Homo sapiens: one gene and its partner. Each later gene encodes a partner of the first gene's protein in a complex. Each region holds a gene or a part of one and is shown in the gene's direction. Other genes may lie near its edges.

Region 1 (3,827 bases):
TACTAAATAGGTTTGAGGTCTGATTTTTAAAAATCCTATTTAAATTCCAGATTTAGAGAGAAGAATATGGTGTTATATTGTTTCGCCTATAAAGGCAAAGAAATATTTAATGTCATGCTAATGTTCCAATATCATTTTTCACATTTCTGCAAGGTTAAGGCCATTTTATCAGCTTAGAACCTATATCCAACCTGCTGTAATTTGGCTGGGTTTTTGTGTTTCTGCCACAGACATTTAATCACTCCCAAATCTGTCAAAAAAATTTCTACAATTTCAGAGGTACTTGATATATTTTAGCAAAGATAAGCTACTGGAACTTTTAAAACCAGGTTGCTTTTTGCTGTTTTTTCCAGTGTTGAAAGATAAGATTTCTCTTGCTTTCTGTCTTCATAGACTACTACTGGAGAATGCCACTTTGAAAATTATCAAAGAGTGTGTGCATTAGAGCAGCAAAAGAGTGCAATGCAGACCTTGAAAGGCATAGTCCGGTTCTTGTCCAAGACTGATAAGAGGCTATTGGTAAGTTTCAGTTTTTCAGGTTGTAGTTCCTGCTTTCCAACAGAGAAGTGAGACACTTAAAATCAAGTCAATGGGTTTGAGCTGTCACTTCAATAATAAGAGAGAAGACAAGTTTAGGTAGTATTCTTGCGTGGAAGGAACAAGCATGGTTGGAAAGTTGAGATAGACCCAGGGTCTATCCCATATATAAACATGTTGGCCGGGTGTGATGGCTCACGCCTGTAATCCCAGCACTTTGGGAGGCCGAGGTGGGCAGATCACAAGGTCAGGAGTTCGAGACCAGCCTGGCCAACAGAGTGAAACCCCGTCTCTACTAAAAATACAAAAATTAGACAGGTGCCTGTAATCCCAGCTACTCAGGAGGCTGAGGCAGGAGAATTGCTTGAATCCGGGAGGTGGAGGTTGCAGTGAGCCGAGATCACGCCACTGCACTCCAGCCTGGGTGACAGAGCAAGACTCCATCTCAAAAAGAAAAAAAAAAATGTTATACAGTTTCATTTTTTTATCTAACAAATGCCCACTATTTGCCAACAAGACATTGTTCCAGACCCTTCAGGACACCAAGAGGTTGTCTTCACCTGGGCAGCCTTTGTGGCATGGGTTAATTTTCATTCTTTTCAGCTTAGTGAATGTATGAAAAGAAACTGGAGAAGCATTCATCACCTTGAAATGATCCACGTTTTACAACAAACAAAGAATACGTAACTTAGCAAGACTCTGATTAGGAACATTTTTTAAAAATTCTGTCCCAGAAGATTATGTTAATACAAATAATAAGAACATATGCTGCAGTTTAAATACTTTATTATAATTTAGAAAACAAACATTCATGTCTTGTTTAAAGGTAATTTAAATGCCACTAAGGAAAGCAGATGTTTAATTTCATATTTATGGAAAGATGATTTTCAAAATGCCATTAGAGTATATATTAAATTCTATATAAAATATTTTAAAAATATTTTCCAATGTTGAAAATTTTAATGTAGCACTTTTATATTCCCTTCAAGTACTGCATAAAAGCTGATCCACATTGTTTAAATTTCTTGTGTAATTTTGGGAAAATGGAAAGTGGAAAAGAAGCCAGTGTTCATATCCAACTGGAAGGCCGGCCATCCATTTTAGAAATGGTAAGTAAGTCTAAAACATTGACAACTTGGTGGCTAAGTTTACATAAAATCTATAAATTCAGTCATATAGGCAGGATAGTATGAAGGCATTCAACAAATTAAATTTTAAATAAAATTTTGGAGTAAAACTCTAAAACTGTATTTCTATCACTTCAACTATCTACATTGACTAAGTGAAATGGCTTTAGAAATTAACAGGTAATAAAGGCTAAAATAGGCCAGGCACAGTGGCTCATGCCTGTAATCCCAGCACTTTGGGAGGCCAAGGCAGGAGGATCACTTGAGGCCAGGAGTTCGAGACCAGTTGTATTCCTAGGTAGATGTCTGGTGTTATTTCTGAGGTCTCTGTTCTGTTCCATTGGCCTCTGTATCTGTTTTGGTTAGCCTTGTAGTACAGTTTGAAGTCGGGTAGCCTGATGCCTCCAGCTTTCTTTTTGCTTAGGATTGTCTTGACTATATGGGCTCTTTTATGGTTCCATAGGAAATTTAAAGTAGTTTTTTCTAATTCTGTGAAGAAAGTCAATGGTAGCTTGATGGGAGTAGCCTTGAATCTGTAAATTACTTTGGGCAGTATGGCCATTTTCACGATATTGATTCTTCCTATCCATGAGCATAGAATATTTTTTTCCATTTGTTTGTGTCCTCTTATTTCCTTGAGCAGTGGTTTGTAGTGCTCCTTGAAGAGGTCCTTCACATCCCTTGTAAGTTGGATTCCTAGGTATTTTATTCTGTTTGTAGTGAATGGGAATTCACTCATGATTTGGCTCTCTGCTTGTCTATTATTGTATACGAATGCTTGTGACTTTTGCACATTGATTTTTGTATCCTGAGACTTTGCTGAAGTTGCTTATAAGCTTAAGGAGTTTTGGGGCTGAGACCATGGAGTTTTCTAAATATACAATCATGTCACCTGCAAACAATTTGACTTCCTCTCTTCCTATTTGAATACCCTTTGTTGCTTTCTCTTGCCTGATTGCCCTGGCCAGAACTTCCAATACTGTGTTGAATAGGAGTGGTGAGAGAGGGCATCCTTGTCTTGTGACGGTTTTCAAAGGGAATGCTTCCAGTTTTTGCCCATTCAGTATGATATTGGCTATGGGTTTGTCATAAATAGCTCTTATTGAGATATGTTCCATCAACACCTAGTTTATTGAGAGTTTTTAGCATGAAGGGATGATGAATTTTATTGAAGCCCTTTTATTTTAAAAATATAGCTAAGAAGAAAAACTAAGGCTTTCATAAAATCAAATAAAATCAAAATTCAACAACAAAAACATATTTAAATTTTAAAAATAATGAAATATATCTTGGACTTTTTCCTACAAAGGAGCATGTATATTTATGAGGAGTAGTTTGAGATGAAACTAGTTTTATGTGGAGTTCTGTTTTTCAGCTTTCTCATCTGTTCAATATGGATAAATGAGATGATTTTTATAAGCACTTAGTTCATGGAACATAGGAAGCCAAAGGAAATGGCAGCTGTTATGTTCAAGTGGAATTCTTGAAATTGCCAAACAGTGCTTAAGAGGAAGATACACTAGACAGGCAAAGAAGAAATATCCATTTTAGTTTCAACTGTGCTAAAAGCAAAGTCATTGAACCATCAGCAAGTCATTTAACCTTTTGCAGTTTGCCTTATCTTTTTCTCTAGGTCTAGGTTTTCCATCAGTGGCCATAATTGGCATTTTGAACCAGATAATTTTGTTTTGGGGGGTTGTCCTGTGCATTGTAGGATATTTAGTATCATCCTCAGCCTCTATACGCTCACTGCTGGTAGTACCACCTCCCACGTTCTGACACTTGACAGTTTCTTTAGACATTCCTGACTGTCCCTTAGGTGATAAAACCCTCCCTGCTGAGAACCACTGCTCTAGATCTATAGGAAGCTTGTCATTTTTGGCTCTAAAATGTTAAATAACATTTACACAATAGTTTTAAAGGTCATATCCCTCTTTAAGAATCTGACTAAATATATTCTCATCTCCCTCAGCAAATGCACACATGAAAACATCTCCTAAAGATTCTTAGAATTTATAAAGCCCTTCTACAGATCCCCAAGCTTCATGGATTCTGCGTTATAAAATCCTTGCTTTAGATAGTAAAGTTCTGAGTTCATCCACTGATTTTATATTTGAATTCTATAATGTATTTAATTTAGAAAGAAATAAAAAGCCCAAATAA
Region 2 (2,826 bases), on another chromosome or scaffold:
TAAGGGTGAGAAACTGAAATCCCAAACACTGTTTTGTTGCTTGTTTTATTATGACCTCAGATTAAATTGGGAAATATTGGCCCTTTTGAATAATTGTCCCAAATATTACATTCAAATAAAAGTGCAATGGAGACCTTGGGGTCTTTATTTCCAGGAGAAAAGATACCTTCTGCATCTAGGGCAACAATCCTTTTCCCTCGCAGCTCTTTCTTTTACCTCACTTACTGATTTCTCCTGACCCCCAAGCCAAGGAGGTAAAATAATTATATATATATATATATATATATATATATATATATAAAGTAATTATATTTTATAGCTAGACTGAAGAGGTGGGAATTTTTTTGTTGTTTTTTTTTTTTTTGGAGACAAGAGTCTTGCTCTGTCACCCAGGCTTGAGTGCAGTGGTGCGATCTCGGCTGAGTGCAACCTCCGCCTGCTGGGTTCAAGCGATTCTCCTGCCTCAGCCTCCCAAGTAGCTGGGATTACAGGTGCCCGCCACCACACCTGGCTAATTTTTGTGTTTTTAGTAGAGACAGGGTTTCACCATGTTGTCCAGGCTGGTCTTGAATTCCCGACCTCAGGCAATCCGCCCATCTCAACCTCCCAAAGTGCTGGGATTACAGGCATAAGCCACCGCGCCCAGTAGAGATGTGATATTATTCAAGTAAATAAAACCTGAAACTTGGCACATTTGCCTATTTAATGTGCATCAGTCATCTGAACTAGGTTGATCCTGGAATAATGAAAACACTTCACTAGTATTAACTAATGTTTTCTACATAGTAGTTCCCAATAGATTAAGGAAAATTTCCAACCTGAGATTCTTTGTTTTGGAATTTGAATAATGTGTTTGTAACTATTCCTTGATTGTCCCAAATCCAGGCTTTACGTCTGCTTTTGTCAATGTAACATCCTAGTGCCAGGAAATTGGAAAATCCAATGACTTTTTGTGTGTAAAGTACTGGAATTTTTTTGTTCGTTTGTTTTTAAGACGGAGTGTCAACTCTCGCCCAGGCTGGGGTGCAGTGGCCTGATCTCGGCTCACTGCAACCTTCTCCTCCCAGGCTGAAGTGATTCTCCTGCCTCAGCCTCGCAAGTAGCTGGGACTGCAGGCATGTGCCACCACTCCTGGCTAATTATTTGTATTTTTAGTAGAGAGAGGGTTTCACCGTGTTAGCCATGATGGTCTCATTCTCCTGACCTTGTGATCCGCCCACCTCGGCCTCCCAAAGTGCTGGGATTACAGGCGTGAGCCACTGTGCCCACCCTGGTATGTTTTTTTTAAATTGGCCACTTAAGAGTTGTCCTTCAGAAAGTGGAGCAGCAGTGTGATTAGTAAAAACGATGGGCTTTCCTGCAGCTCTGGCTTATGGTCTTTGTTTTTCCAGTTAACAGCTGTTACTTCATGCTGTTATAGGGGGTGGGGGGAGAAAGAGAAAGAATATGTCTAGTGGCTTAATTTTGGGGCTCAATTTGTTTATTATGTTTTTCCTGCAAAAGAGTCACCAGTCTTGTCATGGCTCAATGCATATTTTAAAATGAGTCAAAGCCAATTTGGAAGCTGCTATCTTAGGTTATTTGTAGTCAGGCTTCAAATGGAGAGTGAAACTTTGACTTTGAAAACTGGTGCTCTATGCTCAATGATGGTCTTACACATTCCTCTAGGGAAAGGTCAAGAAATAAATTTGGCTTGATTGTATTCTCTCATTTACCATATAGGAAATACTATGGTAGAACTGAAAATATGTACAATAGTAAAGTGGTGGCTGAGACTGGGCACTTGGAAAATAGACTTGGATTCTTTTCTAAGTGTGAAACTAATTAAATACTTTTATGTGACTGGTAGTAGTCACAGTCTCCTTGATTGATTCTAGTTCCTTTTCAAAGTGGAGAGACCTGAATATAGATTGTAACAGGATGTCCAACCTTGCCAGACAAGCAGGCATATATGTCTCTGGGATGCAGAAGCAGTTACAAGTTAATATATTTAAGCATAATGTTAGCCAATCCTAGGTGATACCAGAGATGTGAATATTTGATCATATTTGAGTTCATTCCTTGAAAGTCCAAACCTAACTGGTCTTAATTGATTACTTCTTAGTATTCCGAATTTTAGAATTTAAAACCCTATGAATTTTCAGTTTGTGCTTACATTTTCTAACATTGGATGTTTGCTTTGGCCAGCTGCTGTTCTGTGTGTTTTCTTACAAAGGCTTAGAGATTCTGGCTGGGTGTGGTGGCTCACGCCTGTAATCCCAGCACTTTGGGAGGCTGAGGCGGGTGGATCACCTGAGGTCAGGTGTTTGAGACCAGCCTGGCCAACATGGTGAGACCCCATCTCTACTAAAAATACAAAAAATTTAGCCGGGCATGGTGGTGCGTGCCTGTAATCCCAGCTCCTCGGGAGGCTGAGGCAGGAGAATTGCTTGAACCCGAGAGGCGGACGTTGCAGTGAGCCAAGATCATGCCATTGTACTCCAGCCTGGGCAACAAGAGCAAAACTCTGTCAAAAAAAAAAAGGGCGGGGGGCGCTTAGAGATTCATGTTTGAGTGAAGATTTGCAGAATGGGACCCAAATGGATATACAGCACAATCAAGATGCAGGGAATTAAGAACTTAACATGTGCTTGTAGGTTTGGGTTTGGGGGCTATGTGGGAGTATAAAAAATAGGCTATGTCTAGACTCCCGAGGGGAACTCGTTTTAAATGCCTATTCTCAGCATTCAGTTTCAAGAATTCTGAATATTTAGGTTGGAGCCCAGGAATATGCATTTTCTTAGCCAAAACTCCCATGGTTATTAATGATGCAGTTGTCCATGCAGC

What was found.
Region 2: the proteins of ITGA4 (region 1) and YWHAZ are in contact, whole or in part, in a crystal structure (PDB 4HKC), measured with the Homo sapiens proteins. Residues at the interface, in NP_000876.3 of Homo sapiens: Arg1007, Gln1008, Tyr1009, Lys1010, Ser1011, Ile1012, Leu1013; in NP_001129171.1 of Homo sapiens: Lys49, Arg56, Lys120, Arg127, Tyr128, Glu131, Gly169, Leu172, Asn173, Val176, Tyr179, Glu180, Ile217, Leu220, Asn224, Leu227, Trp228.

What each region holds. Positions count from the first base shown.
Region 1 is NC_000002.12:181,530,131-181,533,957, forward strand, and holds part of ITGA4 (integrin alpha-4 isoform 1 preproprotein), read left to right. Parts: intron 1-393; coding exon 394-519; intron 520-1,526; coding exon 1,527-1,646; intron 1,647-3,827. UniProt on the Homo sapiens protein: Integrins alpha-4/beta-1 (VLA-4) and alpha-4/beta-7 are receptors for fibronectin. They recognize one or more domains within the alternatively spliced CS-1 and CS-5 regions of fibronectin. They are also receptors for VCAM1.
Region 2 is NC_000008.11:100,915,883-100,918,708, reverse strand, and holds the end of YWHAZ (14-3-3 protein zeta/delta), read left to right. Parts: 3' UTR 1-2,186; downstream 2,187-2,826.